Linked DNA regions of Homo sapiens: all the other regions are linked to region 2. The links come from fine-mapping of genetic effects on gene expression. A gene starts in region 2. Each other region holds a variant in brackets. All regions are shown on one strand. Distances are between the middles of the regions.

Region 1 (5,160 bases), 31 kb before region 2:
TATAATAAACGTATCATATATATTTATATATTTATATATGATATATATCATATATATTTATATATGATATATATCATATATATTTATATATGATATATATCATATATATTTATATATGATATATCAAATATATCATATATATTTATTATATATAATATATATAGATCTATATTTATTATATATAATATAATATATAGATCTATATATATTATATATAATAAATATAGAACTATACTTATTATATATAATAAAATAAATATAGATCTATATTATATATAATAAAATAGATCTATATTTATTATATATAATAAAATAATATAGAGATCTATATTTATTATATATAATAAAATAATATAGAGATCTATATTTATTATATATAATAAAATAATATAGAGATCTATATTTATTATATATAATAAAATAATATAGAGATCTATATTTATTATATATAATAAAATAATATAGAGATCTATATTTATTATATATAATTAATATAGAGATCTATATTTATTATATATAATAAAATAATATAGAGATCTATATTTATTATATATAATAAAATAATATAGAGATCTATAATTATATATAATAAAATAATAGAGATCTATATTATTATATATAATAAAATAATATAGAGATCTATATTTAATTATATATAATAAATATAGAGATCTATATTTATTATATATAATAAAATAATATAGAGATCTATATTTATTATATATAATAAAATAATATAGAGATCTATATTTATTATATATAATAAAATAATAGAGATCTATATTTATTATATATAATAAAATAATAGAGATCTATATTTATTATATATAATAAAATAATAGAGATCTATATTATTATATATAATAAAATAATATAGAGATCTATATTTATTATATATAAAATAATAGAGATCTATATTATTATATATAATAAAATAATATAGAGATCTATATTTATTATATATAATAAAATAATAGAGATCTATATTATTATATATAATAAAATAATATAGAGATCTATATTTATTATATATAATAAAATAATAGAGATCTATATTATTATATATAATAAAATAATATAGAGATCTATATTTATTATATATAATAAAATAATATAGAGATCTATATTTATTATATATAATAAAATAATATAGAGATCTATATTATTATATATAATAAAATAATATAGAGATCTATATTTATTATATATAATAAAATAATATAGAGATCTATATTATATATAATAAATATAGATTATATTTATTATATATAATATATAGATCTATATTTATTATATATAATATATAGATCTCTATTATATATAATAAATAGATCTCTGTATATTATATATAATAAAATAATATATAGATCTATATTTATTATATATAATAGAATAATATATAGATCTATATGTATTATATATAATAGAATAATATATAGATCTATATCTATTATATATAATAGATATAGATCTATATTTATATATAATATAGATCTATATATTATATATAATAAAATAATATATAGATATATATTATACATATCATATATTTATTATATATTACATATCATATATATTTGATACATAATATATATACACTCCTCATATTCTTGAGAGGTGATAAATTCTGTTTTGACTAGGAGTTGATGAATACATGTATGACATGATATGCTTATTATACTTAGTAAGTATAATAAACATATTTTTCTTTTTTCATGGGGATTTCACAGAATAAAATGCATTAGAATTCCTGTGCTTTTGAGCATAAACCTACTTATAGCAGCACTACTTATGGCAAGTATATCTGTAACAGTTCATATATGAAAGAAACTTGGTGGAAGTTTTTCCAAGGTTGACCATTCTAAATGTTTATGTGACATTGTGAAGTCACAAAGGTGAAAATTTTTTCTAAGCTACCATAATTCTTAAGTTAATGTTAATTAACTATACCAAAGGAAAAACTGAATTATCTAAGTCTCTCTTTAGAAAATTTTGTAACAAAATAATTGTTATATGAGAGGCAATCAAAAATAAAAGGCCAAAAATAAATAAATAAAACATTTTATAAAGGCACATTCAGCAAAATGAAGACACTGTGTTGTTTTTCTGAATTTTGGGATGCTTGGGGTATTTTTCAAATTTTCAAAATTATAATTTATAGAGATTTTCTCACTCTAAATTAATATTTTTATTATACCTGATTTTGTATTTTGTATTTATATTAGCTTAAGACCTCAAAAAACCTAGATCCAGGTTGGGCACGGTGGCTCACACCTGTAATCCCAGCACTTTAGGAGGCCAAGGCGGGTGGATCACCTGAGCAGAAGCTCGAGACCAGCCTGACCAACATGGTGAAACCACATCTCTACTAAAAATACAATTAGCTGGGCGTGGTGGCAGGCGTCTGTAGTCCCAGCTACTTGGGAAGAATTGCTTGAACCCGGGAGGCGTCTCTGCACTCCAGCTTGGGTGACAGAGCGAGACTCCCTCTAAAAAAAAAAACAAAAAACAAACAAACAAAAAAACCCTCGATCCAGCCCTGACAACCACTGTCCCCCATCTTCATTCAACTCCAGCCTCAGTGGCCTCTTGTTCCTTGACCACACCAGGTCCATTCTCATCTCATGGCCTTTGCACTTACTGTTCCCTCGCCTGGCATGCTTATTGCTCAAGTATTTACATGGCTGCC[G/A]CCTCACTTCTTTCAAATCTGCAATCAAATATGTCTTCTTAATTCAGCCTTCCATGGTTATCCTTTTTGAAACTGCAGCACACTCCCACCCAATGTAGAAGATTATTTATTCATTTATTTTGTTGATTGTCTTTCTGCCCCGCCCCCGACCAGAATGTGAGCTCCATGCAGGTTGAGGGCTTTTTACTTCTTTAAACCTGTTTTGTTCACAGCTGTACCTGCAACCTTTGGAACAGTGTCTAGCACATAATCAACGTTCAGTATATATTTCTGAAATGGACAGAATGATGGATAGATGGATGGATGGCTAGATAGATGAATGGATAGATAAATCAATAAGTGAATGAATGGTTTCTCAAAGATCAGATGGTTGTAGATGTGCAGTCTTATTTCTGAGTTCTCTATTCTGTTCCATTGGTCTATGTGTCTGTTTTTGTACCAGTACCATGCTGTTTTGGTTACCTGACAAAAACAAGCAATGGGGAAAGGATTTCCTATTTAATAAAGGGTGCTAGGAGAACTGGCTAGCCATATGCAGAAGATTGAAACTGGACCCCTTCCTTATGCCTTATATGAAAATTAACTCAAGATGGATTAAAGACTCAAATGTAAAACCCAAAACTATAAAAACCCTAAAAGAAAATCTAGGCAGTACCATTCAAGACATAGGCATGGGCAAAGATTTCATGACAAAAATATCAAAAGCAATTGCAACAAAAGTAAAAGTTGACAAATGGGATCTAATTAAACTAAAGAGCTTCTGCACAGCAAAATAAACTATCATCAGAGTGAACAGACAGCCTACAGAATGGGAAAAAATTTTTGCAATCTATCCACCTGACAAAGATCTAACACCCAGAATCTATAAGGAACTTAAACAAATTTACAAGAAAAAAGCAAACAACCACATTGAAAAGTGGGCAAAGGACATGAACTTCTCAAAAGAAGACATTTATGTGGGCAACAAACATGAAAAAAGGCTCAACATCACTGATTATTAGAGAAATGCAAACAAAAACCACAGTGAGATACTATCTCACACGAGTCAGAATGGCAATTATTAAAAAGTCAAGAAACCACAGATGCTAGTGAGGCTGTGGAGAAACAGGAACTTTTTTTTTTCTTTCTTTCTTTTTTTTGAGACAGAGTCTCACTCTGTCTCCCAGGCTGGAGTGCAATGGCGCGATCTTGAGAAACAGGAATGTTTTTACACTGTTGGTGGGAATATAAATTACTCCAACCATTGTGGAAGTCAGTATGGCGATTCCTCAAAGACCTACGGGCAGAAATACCATTTGCCCCAGCAATCCCATTACTAGGTATATACCCGAAGGAATATAAATCATTCTATTACAAAGATACATGCACACGTATGTTCATTGCAGCACTATTCACAATGACAAAGACATAGAATCAACCCAAATGCCCATCAATGATAGACTGGATAAAGAAAATGTGGTACATATACATCATGGAATACTATGCAGCCATAAAAAGGAATGAGATCATGTCCTGTGCAGGGACACGGATGGAGCTGGAAGCCATTATCCTCAGCACACTAAAACAGGAACAAAGAACCAAACATCGCATGTTCTCACTTACAAGTGGGAGCTGAACAGTGAGAACACATGGACACAGGGAGGGGAAGAACACACACTGGGGCCTGTGGGGTAGGGGAACAACGGGAGGGAGAGCATCGGGAAAAATAGTTAATGCATGCTGGGCTTAATTCCTAGGTGACAGGTTGATAGATGCAGCAAACCACCACATTTACCTATGTAACAAACCTGCACATCCTGCACATGTATCCCAGAACTTAAATAAAATAAAATAATAAAAATCTAATTCCCTATGTGATGCAATTCAGAGGTGGGACCTTGGGAGGTGATTAGGTCATGAAGGCAGAGGCCTCACAAATGAAATTAGTGCCACCCCTGTCAAAGGGACCACAGAAAGCTCCCTCATACCTTCTGCCATGTGAGGACACAGTAAAAACATGGCTGTCTATGAACAAGGAAGCAAGCCCCACCAGATACTGAATCTGCTGACCACTTGATTGGATTTCACCATCTCTAGAACTGTGAGGAATACATTTCTGTTTCGTTTTTAAAAAAGTGAATGAATGAATGACTAGTCAATATTTTTTATTTTTCATAAGACAATCAGCACTACTACAGTGAAACAAGATCATACTAGCCAAAATTATTGAAATGTGATTTTTTTTTTTTAGAGATGGGATTTCCCTGTGTTACCAGGGCTGGTCTCAAACTCTTGGGCTCAAAAGATTCTCTAGCCTTGGCCTTCCAAAGTACGGGGATTACAGGTATGAGCCACCTCACTTGGCCTGAAATGTGATGTTTAAATTAGCTTTTTCACCATGTAAAAAGTAAATTTACAATTCACAGTAGGCTTTTAATTTCTGAGTTATTAAGAGTACTTTTATTTATAGAAAATATCATATTTGGTTAGCT
Region 2 (5,160 bases):
CATGCCTGGTAAATTTTTGTATTTTTAGTAGAGAGGGCGTTTCATCATGTTGGCCAGGGTAGTCTCGAACTCCTGACCTCAAGTAATCCACTTGCCTCAGCCTCCCAAAGTGCTGGGATTACAGGCATGAGCCACTGCATCTGGCCAAACATACATTAAGTTTAATTTCAATGACAGCTACAATTTCCAATTTACTTTTAGATGGTTAGTTAACTCTTTTCCTACTAAATGAAAATATTCAATATGCCACATATGAAAAAAATAAAATTCTCCCACCCACAAAAAAATCCTCCAGGGGCACAAAAAAAATCATTTGTTCCCTCATTTTTAAATATTTCTGCATGATGAGACAATATAAAGGCACAATATAGGTTAAAATAAATCACTCTGTGGTTTCTCAAAAAAAGTGAAAACAGATCCACCATATGATCCAGCAATCCCACTTCTGGGAATACATCCAAAAGAAAGGAAATAAGTACCTTGAAGAGATATCTGTACTCCCCTGTTTATTGCAGCACTATTCACAATAGCCAAGATATGGAAGCAATAATATTTCTTCTTGAGGAATAAAATTTTTAAATGTGGTATTTATATACAATGGAATATTATTCAGCCATGAAAAAGAATAAAACTCTATCATTTGCAGCAACATGGATGGAACTGGAGGATATTATGTTAAGCAAAATAAGCCAGGCACAGAAAGACAAATATCACATATCCTCTGTCATATGTGGGAGCTAAAAAAGTTGATCTCATGAAGGTAGAGAGGGAGAATGGTGGTTACCAGAGGTTAGGAAGGGGAAGAGGAAGAAGGGGGTGAAGGTAGGCTGGTTAATGGGTACAAACATACAGTCAGATAGAAGGAACAGGTTCTAGTATTTGATAACACGGTAGTATGACAATAGATAATGATAATTTATTTTTTATTTATAATAAACGATATAGATATAAACGATAAAATAAACGATATAGATAATGATAATTTATTGTATCTCAAAATAGCTAGCAGATTTGGAATGTTCCCAACACAAAGAAATGGTAAATGTTTGAGGTGATATATATGCTAATTACACATCGTATGCATATACCAAAATATCACATGTACCCCATAAATATGTGCAGTTATTACATATCACATAAAAAATAAAAAATACATTTAAAAAAATCAAAACTGAAATCACTCTGAGTTTACATTTTGTAGTAAAGGCCAGCATGGAGCAACAGCTGAGTAAAAGGGGATACTTCATGGGCACAGGTGTTGGTAATCCCACAAGAAAACCTGTGTTTCCTCATTTACTTTCTAACAAGACTTCAGCTTCCAATTAATGTTTTTCACCAGTTTTCTTTTCTTCAAAACAGCTAATTGTTAACCAGGGACCTGAGACACTCTCTTGCCTATAAACAAAACAACTAGAAGGATACCTTTTTCTGTTCAGACAAATTTTAGCACTAAAAACATAACCCTCAAACCTCAGAGGGATAGCTCAGTGCAAACTGTTCATGTCTAAAGCATAAATTGACCATAAACAATATATTGAATAGGTGCACTGTATACAAACCCCGTGAAAAAAATAAAACCAACTACTACCAAAGGAAGTGACAAAGACCTACAAACCAAGAAGAAATGTACCTTTATGCTACTATCATTGGTCATTTAATAGGCATGCTAACAGAGTAAAAAATAGACATTTCAAACAACAAAAAAGAAAATGTCACATCTCCCATTTCCAACTAACTCCCCCAAATTTATTTTTTAGCAAAAGGGGAATAATAAAGAATATTTGTGAAACCTTAGTCACCAAGATGAAAACAGCAAAACAAAATAGGGATCTGGAGAAAAGAAACAGATCGTTCCAACCAGCCCACAGCTAAATTTCCACTTCATCTCACTAACCATTGAATGCTACCCATCTACTCACCTCAACCCAGACTTAATCCTCTCCCCCAAAAGGAAGATTTCTCAGCAGTGCAGGAAGATCAAACAGGTATCCATTCCGTGACCATGCCAAGGAGAAAAGCAAGGCTACTCTGAAAGCTTGAGGGATGATACAGAAAACAAACTGGGTCTCTAGGGGGCATTCTCAAAAACCTGAGATCAACTCCTGGAAAAACACTCTTGACCACTTACCACCACCGGAAGCTGCTAGATGGCAATCAGAATCAGCATCTCATCAGAAGAAGAGGAAGACCTTACAAGAAAGCAGCTTCACTGTCAGTGAGGAATTGAGGGAGAAAAGCACTCCTTGGAAAAATGCTGAAAGCCCTGAAGAGCCTCTCCTCCCCTAGTTGCCTGCTCCTGCTGACAGGACAGAACTGGTTAATCTTGGGGAAACAAAAGGAAACTCCCAAGAGGCTGGCTTCTGAGGATGGCTTCCTCTGTGGGAATCAAGAATTCAGGAGGATGAAAATGAACAATGGAAGGGGACACCGGCTACCAGGCCTACTTACCAAACTTTTACCAGCCCTTGACTGAGGAAGATAAGCAAATCTGTTTGCAGTTCCCACCTGCTTTTGCAGAGATGAAAGAATCAGCAGTGGGTTTTTGTCACTTTTTTTTTTTTTTTTTTTTTTTTTTTACAGGGGAAGTTCAGCTCTCTTATGGATGAAAGCTAAGCATACTCAAGTGACATTTAGTAGGCAAAGCAATGACACTTCTTTCCCAACATCCTTAATTTCAGCACAGAGGATGCAAACATTAACCCTGATGGTACCAAAGAACAAATGCACATAGGAAATGGATTTACATCTTTTAGTTTGGAATTGCTTTTAAGGGGATTCTGGTTGTTAAAGCGGGATTAGATGAAAATAAAATATTTTGGTGCATATCTATTTTTAAAAGGAAAAATATGGCTTCTTTTAAATATGCCTAAAGCCATCTAGGAATTTTCCAGAAGTTGCATCAGATTTGCCAGTTAAGTACTGAAATCAAATAGATTTTAATCATGTCTCTATAACCAGAGCAAGCTAATCCCCTGCGCACCATCAACTCCACTCTCCTGGAACATCCTCACGCTGGGCCCTCAGGTTTTCACAGAAACAAGGGCCTTTTCCTACCAAGGTTCCACAGTAACAAGAAACTACAGATTTCTGGAAATAAGAGAGATGGCTTTCTTTCTTACATGATAAAAGAGGACCAAGAACAGCTTAGAGCAGGAAGCAATCATCTCTTTAAAATATTTAAAATAAAAAACACTTTTAAGTGAAAAACATTTTTAAGTATCACCTCTATACCATTTTTAAACCTATCATATGGGGCAAATATAAGTTTGGTAATTCCCTTTGTTAAAGAAGATATAAGGAAATCAGGGCCTTTTCCTTTTCCTATACTGTTAGTGGGAATATAAATTGGTAAAATATTTTTTAAAGGAAACTGAGTATAGTAGTGCCTATCAAGTATTGAAATGTGTATGTGTTTTTATTTCTTAGGAATTTACCTTATAGAAAACCACACACACGTGCAAACATATCTCTAAATATGTTAATTATAGCACTATGATAGCAACAACAAAAAAACACCTAAAAATGGCTTACATATAAGAGACTGCCTAAATAAGTTAAGGTATATTGATACAAAAGAGTACTATGTAGCCATTCAAAAGAGGGTAGAATTGGAGTAAGGAATCAGGTCATCTGAGTTTAGTTCTGTCTCCACCAGTGACTGGCCAGGTGACTATGCAAGCTCCTACACTTATCTGGGCCATCTGTAAAAAGATGATCATTATAGAACTTACCTCATAGGATTGTTGCAACTAAAACAGTGCCTGGAGCAAAGTAGAGACTCAATAAATTTAGCTATTATAAATAAGAGATAGGCCTCTTCAGACTGACATAGAAAAAGATGTCCAAGATGTACTGTCAAGTGAAAAGATCAAGTTGCAGAAGAATTGTGTATAAGATAATCTCATTTTTAAAAAATATTTTAAATGTGCTCGCTGTTTATTGTCTCCCTCCCACTAAAATAAAAGCTCCTTGAGAGCAGGGACTTTTGTTTACTGTTGAACTCCTGGTGTCCATAATAAGCACTCATGAATAATGAATAATGTCGAATGAATAATGATAACAGCAAGGCTCAGCAAGAAGAATAGGTGAATTCACAGAGACAGAAAGAGTAGAGGCTACCAAGGGCTGCAGGAAGAGAGTATGGGAAGGTATTGTTTAATGGGTACAGGGTTTCAGATTGGGATGATGGAAAAGTCCTGGAGATGGATAATGGTGATAGTTATACAACACTGTGAATGTACTTAAAGCCACTGAACTGTACACTTAAAGGTAGTTAAAATGATAAATGTCATGTTATGTATACCTAGCACAACTTTTTCAAAAATTTCTACTTTTTCTTCATAAGGAGTAGAAAGACGGGGAACAGAGAAGGATGTCCATCTTATAGAGGACTATTACTAGTGTGACTGCAAACCCTTGCTAATCAGAAAACAGTTTAAATTCTCGATTTAGGATACAAGAAAAAAAAAACCTTTTATTCCCATTATACAAAGGTAGCTAAACAGAGCTTAAACTTTCATCCCTATTAGGCAGTATGTGCACTGTCAGAACGCCAGGTCTGTGTTTTCAAGAGGCCTTATTTTGTTTTAAAGCCTTACTTTTGACAAACGTCCTTTATGTCTGTAGTCTAGAGTTTTCAAAGTGCTTTCTCAAGGATCATCTCAACTTGTCCTGACAAAAATCTCGTGATCATATTAAAGGAATTTTAATTAAGTATCTGAGCATTTGAGAGAAAAAAAGAATTCTGAATTTACTCACTCTTTTACCTTGTTCTCCAACTTTACACACATTTCATCAAAACGAAGAGATGGAAATTTTTATTCTTAAGAATCTGAAACCACACAACTATAAGTCTAATATACAACGGAATAAATAGCATCTTATGTTTCTTAGAACCTGTAAATATCTCTTGCCTAACTGCCAAGATAGCTAAGAAAGCCAATGAATTATGGTTTTAGATAAACAGATTAACTACCTGTAACAAGTGGGATGGCCTGGCCTATAGTTTGAAATCTACAGTTGGAAGAAATTGATCTAACATATTTTCATTCAACAAATGCAAATACTCTGCTAGACACTTTGTGGGACATAGAAAAGATGAACAAAATATGATTCCTGCTCCTGTGATGCTTATCAGCTGCTGGAAGGAATCAGATGTGC
Region 3 (5,160 bases), 230 kb before region 2:
TGTTAACCTGAGTCCTTTACCTTAGAAACCAACTTTGCCATATGGGCATTGGCTTAGCACAGTTTAGACTTCAGGGTCTTTCACAGAAATTAAGGCCACAAGCAATTTTTTTTTTTTTTTTGAGACAGAGTTTCACTCTTTTGCCCAGACTGGAGTGCAGTGGCACAATCTCGGCTCACTGCAGCCTCTGCCCCCTGGGTTCAAGCGATTCTCCTGCCTCAGCCTCCCGAGTAGCTGGGATTACAGGTGCCTGCCACCATGCCTGGCTAATTTTTGTATTTTTAGTATAGACGGGGTTTTGCCACGTTGGCCAGGCTGGTCTTGAACTCCTGGCCTCAGGTGATCCACCTGCCTTGACCTCCCAAAGTGCTGGGATTACAAGCATAAACCACCGTTCCTGGCCAAGCAATGTTTCTTCTACAACAGGTTTCTGTTGAAGAATCCTTGCAAGAGATCTCCAGCTACTCAAATAGTTATTCTAGTAAATGCCCCACTTCTACTTGTGGTCCTTAGATCCCCTTGGAAAAATTTTAAGGCCCCCTTCTGGTGACTAGGACTAGCTGAGAGGGGCACATGAGCCCAGATCAACCTCCCTGTTTCTCCCCTTCCAAGCATGCTCGGGCACTCTACCACCTCTTCTTCCCTCCCAACCCACCCAACACAGGTTGACCAGATGCCCTGAAGAGAGGGGCAGGGTGGAGGTTGAGGGATGATGACTCTTTTCAGATTTCTAGGTCGACACTCTGATTTTGGGTGACTCAAATTGTTTATATAAAAGGAGTCCCACAAAAAACCATTTTCCCTAGGGCACCCATACTCACAGGGGAAGCCATGGCACCTCTGCCTCCAAAATATTTGTTCCCTATCTCCAATACTCTGAACAAGAGAGAAAAGCCATGCTACTACAAGATGTCACAAGTCTGTTTAAAATCCTATAAGTGTCTCTTCACAGATCAGAAAAAAAAAAAACAGGGAGGAGAGTTCATTTTTCCAACTTCACTGTTTTTTCTATTTAAGGAAAGCTCCTCGCTCCCTTCTTTATGGGAGCAATTTATCAGCCTTATCAACCATTTTACATAGAGTTAAAAATACTCCAGCTACAAATTACAATCTAAAAACAGCTTGGAGAACACAAAACCTATGATTTATAGAATGACACATTTAAATAAACCTTAATAAAGTTCTTAAACAGCTGCAAAGGGCTTTCTCTGCTCTTTCTGCTCGACCACTGGCTGAGCTCCTTGTTCAAATAACAGGATGAACTTACTACCTCTTTGGAGATGTGTATCCCCCTTTTCCTATGTGTTGCAGAGGAAACCTATCTAATGACCTTTTGGGGGCCTTAAAAAACATTTGTCATTTAAAGAAAACACATTGTGGAATAAATATGAGGTGCTCAGCCTCAGCACATCTGTTATTGATTTGTGTAATTAGTAAAAACCCGCTCGCAGCATCCAGGAGGAGTGACCCAGGCCTGAGCACTCGTCCAGTCCTGGACTTTCCCCAGAGCACATCTGGAAGGTGAGGGGGAGCAGAGCTACCATGCCAGGTGGAGACGGGCTCACAGGTAACCAAATCCATGAAGTCATCAAAGCCTTAAGATTAGTCGCAGTCTTTCACGTCACTTTCCAAACTTTTTGTTGCTTTATTATACTGTTTGACAGAACTAAAGTTTTTCCAGCCTTGACAAGATAATTGCTTCCATATCACAGTAGAATTGAAGAAAAAAAAAATACACAGCCCTGTATCTCACTGACAATGATAAATTGTCATCAGATAATATCATCTCACAAGTACACAGTACCAGTAGTTGCATAATTTTAAGCATGAATTTTCTAAATAGGACTTCAACCAATTTTTTTTATTTGGCTGTATCCTTGGTAGGGGACAGTTCCTCTTTACGAAAAGTCCTGAAGGCATAGGGTGCTTTTAAAATAAGTTACAGGTATAAATTGTGAATCCAAACCCACAGTGGATGCCACAAAACTCATGTGGGTTTCAATAATAGATTGGGATAAGGCATGTCCTTAAAAAGAATCCATGATTCAGTTTAGAGACCTAGTCTCCTTTATCCAAACCTCTCTGTTCCAGAAATCTGGCTGGAAATCTCATTAGAACAAATTATATTTAATTTGTTTCTCAGTGGCAGTTGAGTTGGAGCGTTTGCCAGCAGAAGGTGTCCTCAAGCTTCCAGATGATTCTACAAACAGTTCGCCTAGGGACAGGCCTGTCCCTCCCACAGCTCTAAGCTATGACACACCCCGCAAGTCATGAGGTCTCTTTCAATAGAGAGCTCATTTCCTCCACATAGTCATATTGAACTGAGTGTTTCTGGATATTTCTCCTTTAGATTCCAAATAAAGCAAACATTTTCTGATTAGGGGTTGAGGGAAGACAGTATTTTTAAAAAAAAAAAGGATATGGCCATTAGCTTTTCCAAATTTATGACAACCCAAGAGGTCACTTATCATCAGGTAGAGTAGGCAGAGCGCTGAAGTGGGAGCCAGGAGACTTGGTTCCGGTCCTAGCCTTGCCTACCGCTGATCCTCAGCTCCTGCAGGATCAGGATCCTCCTCTGTAAAACGAG[G/A]GACTGGACTCAATGTCCCTGAAATTCTCTGCCAGAGTAAAGATTCTAGGTTCAACAAGATACATACTTTTTGTTCTTTGTTCCCGCTGCTTCTCCCAGGAAATTCCACCCAACATAGGAAACAAAAGGGAGTCTGGTCCGCGGGTTCTTTTCACTGTACATCTCAAGCCAATCACAACATAAGCAACGTACTGAAGTTAACCAGAGGAAAGTCCATAAACCAACGACAACCCAGACTACATCACATCACCATCCATCACAGATGTCCTAAGTGCCACCATCCCACAGGCAGTAATGCTTCCACCCATTGGCCTTCTTGAAGCCTTGCACACCACAGCTGGATTTGCCTACACATGTGCCCCAGCCCACCTACCAGGATGGGGCATTGGCTGGAATCTGCTGGAGCTCTCATCAGATAATAATTGCCTGGATAAAATCCACCAGGCCCCAAAGGCAGACTGATGTAGTAAAGAAACAGCACATGTCACTTCATTAAATAATTAAGCTGGTGTTTTAGAAAGTCAACATTGTGTCTTAAAAAACACAATCTGTTTACATTTGGTCAGATGTTTTCAGCTGAAGAAAGGATTACTTCCAAACAATCTGTTGAGAGGTACACGGAAGAATATTTAGGCGCTTATGAATCATGCTGTGATTTGACAGGGTTGGCCCCAAGACATGGCTTATCCATAGTAAATTTATTCCAAAAGAAATTTTTGGTAGAGAAATAAAAGAAAGGAGATTATGGGATTTTTCAACATTTGTTATGCATTTATGAAAATAAAATCTTTCCCAGACTGTAGGTTCCTTGAGGGTAGGAACAGCATCCCTTTGATTCACTCTGTTGTTCCTGGGGGGCCATCAGAGCACCTGGCCCTAAATTGGCACCCAGTTTATTGTTGGTAAATGAGCAAGCATTCAGACCACAGGTTCTGCATTGGACAATATGTGTGAGAGTCTCACTGCTGTCAGGACTGGACAGAGAAAGTGATGGAAGATTAGGCCTACCCAGGAATGGCCTCTAAAGAGATGCTGGCTATTACCAAATCTGCCAGGCCTTGGAGTTATTACTACTGGCTCCATTTCACTATGGAGCTTTCAATCCTGTTAAAGCAGTTTAGGAGAGGGGTGGCAGGGAGTGGGAAGACCTCAGACAGCTGACTTTCTTTAAAAGACTGGAAGTAAGTGGCTATCTAAGGGGCTTTAGGGGCTAAGAAAGTCTCATCACCCAACACATGGTGTTGGAGGCCAAAGCCACATGTTGGGTGATCTTAACGGGGAAGTGAGAGAGTATGACAGTGAAACTGTCCCCCATTCAAAAATTCTCATTCTCTGTAGTTCTTACAAATATGTTGTTTTCTTTTCACTTGCCTCATTTACAGCATATTGTCCTTAGAAAAACAGGACTAAAAAAAAGCCAAAACATTTTTCAGTTAAACCTGTTGCTAATCAGGCCCTTCCAGTGAAAAACAGGGAATGGAAAAGAGACAATGATCCCTGCCAATCCCAATTCCAAATCCGAGCCACCTTCACAGCCAGTCTTCAATACCGCGAACATGCCAGGCCACTCCCATGTGGGGTGTGGCTGGGGAACACCAGAGTTTCCAGCTTTACAGTGGTAGAACACCTGCTCTAGAACAGGCTTCTTGCTATAGACAATACTGCTAAGTAAGCTCCCCATTCAATGCCATGAAGTTTTTGAAAGGTATTTCTCAATGAGTTGGTGTTAAACAGAATTTTAGAAATTACAAGATTTTAGCTAATTACAGGTCAGTTGGAAAGTGTATGAGGGGAGGGATGTCCTCCTTTTACTCCAAAGTCTCATACCCTTCTGCAAATCAAGCCCCAAATCCCTGAAGGGAGCTAGAATTTCAGGCCTTCAGATCTCCACTTAATTTTTAAAATATTCATACACTTGCTTGCAGACTAATTGTGCCTAAGTCATCCCAGATCCTCCTAAGTCATCCTAGATCCTCACACATTTCTCCTTTCCCCATGCTTTCAAATTACCTTTAAATACAAGTTTGTTTGTTTGTTGTTTGTTTGCTTTGAGATGGAGTCTCGCTCCATCACCCAGGCTGGAATGCAGTGGTGTGATCTCAGCTCACTGCAACCTCCACCTCCCAGGTTCAAGCGATTCTCCTACCTCAGCCTCCTAAGTAGCTGGGATTACAGGCACGCTCCACCCCGTCCAGCTATTTTTTGTATTTTTAGTAGAGACGAAGTTTTACTACGTTGGCCAGGCTGGTCTCAAACTCCTGACCTCAAGCGATCTGCCCACCTTGGCCTCCCAAAGTGCTAGGATTGCAGGTGCGAGCCACTGCACCCAACTAAATACAATATTTGTATTAGACTGATTTATGCACTTATTTATTTCCCAATGAGAAAAACCAGTTCTAGGTGGGCAAGAGTTTGTCCTTTTCATTATTTTGTTTTCTCTTCCCAAGATAGCAAGCAAGTCTTTCTATTAGCAAGTTGACAATGTCATGTGACTCACAGATGAGGAAGACAGAAATTATTAAATTAAAAACAACATCTTGGGCCGGGCACAGTGGCTCATGCCTGTAATCCCA
Region 4 (5,160 bases), 54 kb before region 2:
AGCTAAGTAAACAAAATGTAATGATTAATGGCCCAACAGCAACCTATAGGGAGGTCTCTAGTGATAAGACGCATGGCCATGTTCTTCATTGTGTTGTGCTCAGTATTTTTATTATTAACTTAGATCAGTGATTAATCCAGGTTGCCCATTAGAATCACTAGGGGAGCTTTAAAAAAAAAAATGCCTGGACTCCACCCCTAAAGCTTCTGATTTCATTGGCCCATTTGTTTAACTATCAATGACAATACAGAGAGATGCTAAAGTCCACATAGATACAATAATAAAAGGAATAGTTTAATGACAGAGTAAGTGCCTATTATGTGCCAACAAGCCCTATGACAAGCAAGATATGGAGATAAATGTGACACGGTTCTTGTCATTAACAATAAAAATAAAATTAATATGAGATTAATAGACTCAACAGTCACTGAAAAGATAGTACAGTCTTAGACTGTATTAATAATCTTTCTCTACTTCAAGATGGTCAAATAAATTCTAGACTATTGTGTTTGACTTTGGAGGAACCCACTTGAAGAAGTTATAGAAAAACTGAGGCTCTTTGAAAAGAAAAGGAATAGCAGGTGATTTTCCTGGAGATCTGTTTATTTGATGAATTTGTGTTTGATATTTTAAACACAAATATCTGAAGTGTTGTTGCATGAAACAGAAGACATGTTTGCTCTGCTTTGGTCTCTGAAGAAAAGCTAAAACAATGGAAAATAAAGCAAGAGAATATCAATTTGGCTCAATTGATGGAAAAATTACCTAATGATTAAAACTACCCAAAGAAAGAAAAGGCTGTTTGGGGAGGTAATGAGGTCCCCTCTTCTAAAGGGATAAAAGCACAGACAGGACATGGAGTTGGTTAGAATTCTGTAAAGAGAGTTGAATGGAAAAGCTTTAAAGGATAATTCCACACTGAGATTCCACAGTGTATTGTACTGAAGCTAATTTCCTTGCAGTACCTAAGAAATCAGGTTTTTCCTTTTGTATAAAAAAAGCCCTTCTTCCCTAAACTTTTGGACAATTGGTACACAATGATGTCACCATCTATAACTTACCTAGATGACACCTGAACAGCCACATCTGTAATGATGTGAACTGACAACCAAGGAGGACACATAAAACCCAGTACAATCAGGACTGCTAGAGACACCAAGTCAAGGGTATCAGGAGCTAGAGATTTAGATCAACAGTCTTGGCATGTGACTCTGATTGCTGTCCTCTGCTTAATTCCTCTGAGAACAGTCTCTCATTATTCAAGCAAAAACATCCTTACAAAACTGTATACACTTCCTCACAACTACAACACTACCTCCGTGCACACAGTCATGCAATAGACACAGATTTATTGACAAATATATAGCCCAAGTCTTGGATCATTTTTAAAGAATTTTCAAGTTTAATGCCTAAGTAGCTTACTTTTGTAATAAACCTGCAAATTGTATACTTGATGTATTAGTCTATTCTCATGCTACTATAACAAAATACCTGAGACTGGTAATTTATAAAGACAAGAGGTTTAATTAGCTCATGGTTCTGCAGGCTGTACACAAAGCATAGAGGCTTCTGCTTCTGAGGAAGCCTTAAGAAACTTGCAATCATGGCAGAAGGCAAAGGGGAAGCAGGCACATCTTACACGGTTGAAGCAGGAGCAAAAGGGAGAGGGAGGAGGTGCTACACACTTTTAAACAACCAGATCTCAGGATAACTCACTGTCACTATCATGAGAACAACACCGAGGGGATGGTGCTAACCCACTCATAAGAACTTCACCCTCATAATCCAGTCACCTTCTACTATGCCCCACCTCCAACACTAGCGATGACAATTCGACATGAGATTTGGTGGGAACACAGATCCAAATCATATCATTTGATAATTGCTATGAGAGTAGATTTTAAGTGTTCTCATCATAAAAAAATGATAAGTTATGTGAGATAAGGCATATGTAAATCAGGTCGATTTAGCCATTTTGTAATTTATACATATTTCAAAACATTATGTTGTGTACTATAAATATATACAATTTTTATTTGTCAAAAAAAAGAAACTACATAGAAAATCAGGTGTAAAATGTGACAGTAATCTGGTACTAGTTTCATAATAGTGGACATGAAGTTAAGATCACCTTGGTACATAAATGATTTGATCTTTCAACAACAAAATGTAAAACATGATTGTTACCATCTTTTAACAATAAGATTCCCAGAACCAGACCATTTGGTCCAGTAAAGAAGATTGCAAAACAAGATAAAAACCACTTTGAGACCGTTGGGGTTAGTGGTTTTTTTCCGTTAACCTCTCAATTGTTACTAAACTTGCCCAATTTCATCCACACAGTTGATTTAT[G/T]GATTATTTTCATGAACCATTTGCCAACAAAGGAAACTCCATTTATAGTTCCTTCTTCACAAGTAACTTACTCTTCTTTCTATGTAATCTTTTCATTTCTCAATCTTAAATTTATTCCATTACAGCCAAGCTATAACAGAGCAAAATTCTGCCATCAAAAATTGCTTATTTTAACTCTTGTAATTCCAATTACATATTGCTTGCATACTTTTCAGTTTTGTACCATTGCAGTGAAGAAAGTAAAAATAAAAATAAATAAATAAGCCAAATCTGTTTTTTTAACTTAAAATTTACTTCTCAAAGCAGATGGAATGGGAACTAGTTTATGAGGATGCTGAAATTATCTCAAGCCTGGAACAGGTAAATAACAAACAAATACCTCAGAGAACTTACCTAGATTCTTTAATTACTTTAATATGCCATTTTAGAACATTTAGGAATAGAAATTCAGAGGCCAGAAAAAAAAAAAAAAAGATTAAAACAGGCAAACTAAATTAGGGAAACAAGAAACCAGACGAATGCTTAGCCAAAGAATAACACTATTTAAACAAATCAGATGTCAAAAAGATAAAAAATATTTATGTTTTTATACTCTTGAATCCAGAAAGAAAATGAATTTGAGAGATATCCAAAAAATATATTTTCTCCTACAAGTAAATTATTTATAAAGAAAAAAATTAAAACCTTTGCCATGTCAAACTTAGAATAACATACACAGATATTAACAGCACACAAAACAGAAGCCATTTTCAATGTTTGCTAAAAAGCCACTGTTACTATGGTGATGCCCCAATACAAAAAAGCAACAACTAACAACCAGAAACCCATAACAAATGCAAGTTACTGGTGCTTTCCATGACTAATTCCAACGTGTCACACTGCTTGTCATCATCTGTACTCTTTAGTTGGTGCATCTGGTCATCAGCCCCATAGGTGAGGATCTGCATCATGTGGGCAGTACAGCTATGCTGCTCAAGAAGAATAGAGACCCAAATGTCCCATCAGTCCGGGGATGTGTTTCAACATGGTGACATCCCAAGAGTCTCCCAAAGAAAATATTTACGGAGTTTTACCTTTCCATGGATTTTAAACACATACTTAAAAAGCCAAAATATGTGAAAAGATTGATTTAAAAATGGTTGACCAAATTTCAGTCAGCCTGAAAGCTTTTATACTGTTTCTCTTCTCTTTATTGCAAGCTATTAATTGAATTAGCTCTACCCCACCCCCTCTTTCTTTTTTTTACAGTTTGTGGGGTTTTTTTCTGCCCTCCGACTTTTAAACCTCAACTTTCTTAAAAAATTAAAACGGCTTTCTTCAGGTCCTCCAGTTACTTCCTTCTATTAAAGATGTTTTCCCTTAGTTCTTAACCTCATAGGCACCTACCATTAGACCAGTTCACCACTCCCTCTTTCCTGAGACGTTCCCTTCCTTAACACTTTCCTACACTGTCCTCTCTTCGTTCACTTCAATCCTTGCTGTCCTCTGTTCCTTCTTAAGTTCTTTCCCTCCCACTCTCTAACAAACTGAGTTTCCACCCCATACCTCACATTTAGCAAGTTCCATCACTGCTTAACAAGCCTCACTTCTCTCCTAGCTCAAAGTTTCTCCTTCCAGCCGATATTCCTAAATCTACAGCTCCCACCACACCCAACTTACGTTCTGTGTTAACCTGGCCATTTCCGTTTGGGGATTTGGCCTATTTTATATGGAGGGCAAATAAAATCCCTTTTCACTTTGTGATTCCCCAGCTCCTGACAGCCAATTACCTCATGTTTAAACTCTCTTTTTAAATAGTCTGTTCTCACCTACCCAAACCATAATTCCTCATGACATACTGTCACTTCTCTTAGCCTGTAGTCTAAGGTCTGACTACAGGCTTTTGCTCCTGTCTCTCCTTGCTAACAGTGGTGGTACAAATAAACAAGGCAGGAATCATTTCCCACTTCCTCTGGCAAAACTTCCTCAAACACTTTCGTGTACTTTGAGCTCTCCTTTCCCTAGCATTTACAGGCCACATCACAAAATTAGAATTTCACAGCACCTTTTCATTCTTACCTATTATTAGTTTCATTCTAGTGTGCTGGGCTTCTCTTCCTGAGTAGACTATATCTGCTCCTTGAAGGTAGAAAGCAGAATTTGTACCCCCTTTCTTAATAGCTCCAGTAGCACTCAACACACTGCTAGTCTAAGCAGGCACGTCCTGTAGCATGCACTTTGGGGCCCACCTAAACATATTCTGCCTACACTAGCTTCTTCATGTATTGTTATCCCTTTGAGCTTTATATGCTTTTTGTACATTGCCGCAAATACTGTTTGGAAAATAAATGAGGAAAAGGCAACAAACATACATGTTGCTAGGTATAGAGCAGGTATGTTGTGAATATTAAATTCTGAAAATTATTTTTATTTCTATTAAAGAAAAGGGGACAATGAATGGTCTATGCACCCCACACACAGGAACATGAAATTTTCCTGTTAAGCCAGTCTTTTCTCAGAGAAACACAGATACATTATTATGATGTGGGCCTAAAGAGGCCCAGTGACCATCTCGGCTCACACACTGAGAATGATGGTGAACCATATTTTTCTACTCTACTCTCAACCACTTAGATTCTGAGTTAAGAGGAGAGAGAAGTTTGCTGACTGTGGAAACGTACAAAGTCCTATTTAAATGGGCGGGAGGGAAATAAAAGGAGTTCATGTTGCAGGGAGCCTTAGTGGTGTGATTGTAGCACTGACTGCTGGGGGTTGGAGGTACTCAACCACATTGTTGCACTGAATGAACACTTTGGAAAATCCAAATGG

Evidence for each region. PIP is the estimated chance that this variant, and not a neighbour inherited with it, causes the effect.
Region 1: its variant is fine-mapped to the expression of ATP8B4 in non-classical monocytes (Schmiedel 2018, PIP 0.92).
Region 3: its variant is fine-mapped to the expression of ATP8B4 in whole blood (TOPMed, PIP above 0.99).
Region 4: its variant is fine-mapped to the expression of ATP8B4 in whole blood (TOPMed, PIP above 0.99). The same link has a PIP of 0.9 or more in blood mononuclear cells.

Annotation. Positions count from the first base shown.
Region 1 is chr15:50,085,854-50,091,013 of GRCh38, forward strand. All of the region lies in intron 2 of ATP8B4 (ATPase phospholipid transporting 8B4 (putative)), which reads right to left. Among named protein-coding and RNA genes, the nearest start is that of ATP8B4, 31 kb to the right of the region's middle. The variant G/A (reference allele first, on the strand shown) is at 2,690.
Region 2 is chr15:50,117,204-50,122,363 of GRCh38, forward strand. It overlaps ATP8B4 (ATPase phospholipid transporting 8B4 (putative)), which reads right to left and starts at 2,030. Exons shown (of 28, transcript NM_024837.4): 1 at 1,920-2,030.
Region 3 is chr15:49,886,707-49,891,866 of GRCh38, forward strand. All of the region lies in intron 23 of ATP8B4 (ATPase phospholipid transporting 8B4 (putative)), which reads right to left. Among named protein-coding and RNA genes, the nearest start is that of ATP8B4, 230 kb to the right of the region's middle. The variant G/A (reference allele first, on the strand shown) is at 2,588.
Region 4 is chr15:50,063,194-50,068,353 of GRCh38, forward strand. The region is part of intron 3 of ATP8B4 (ATPase phospholipid transporting 8B4 (putative)); the gene reads right to left. Among named protein-coding and RNA genes, the nearest start is that of ATP8B4, 53 kb to the right of the region's middle. The variant G/T (reference allele first, on the strand shown) is at 2,353.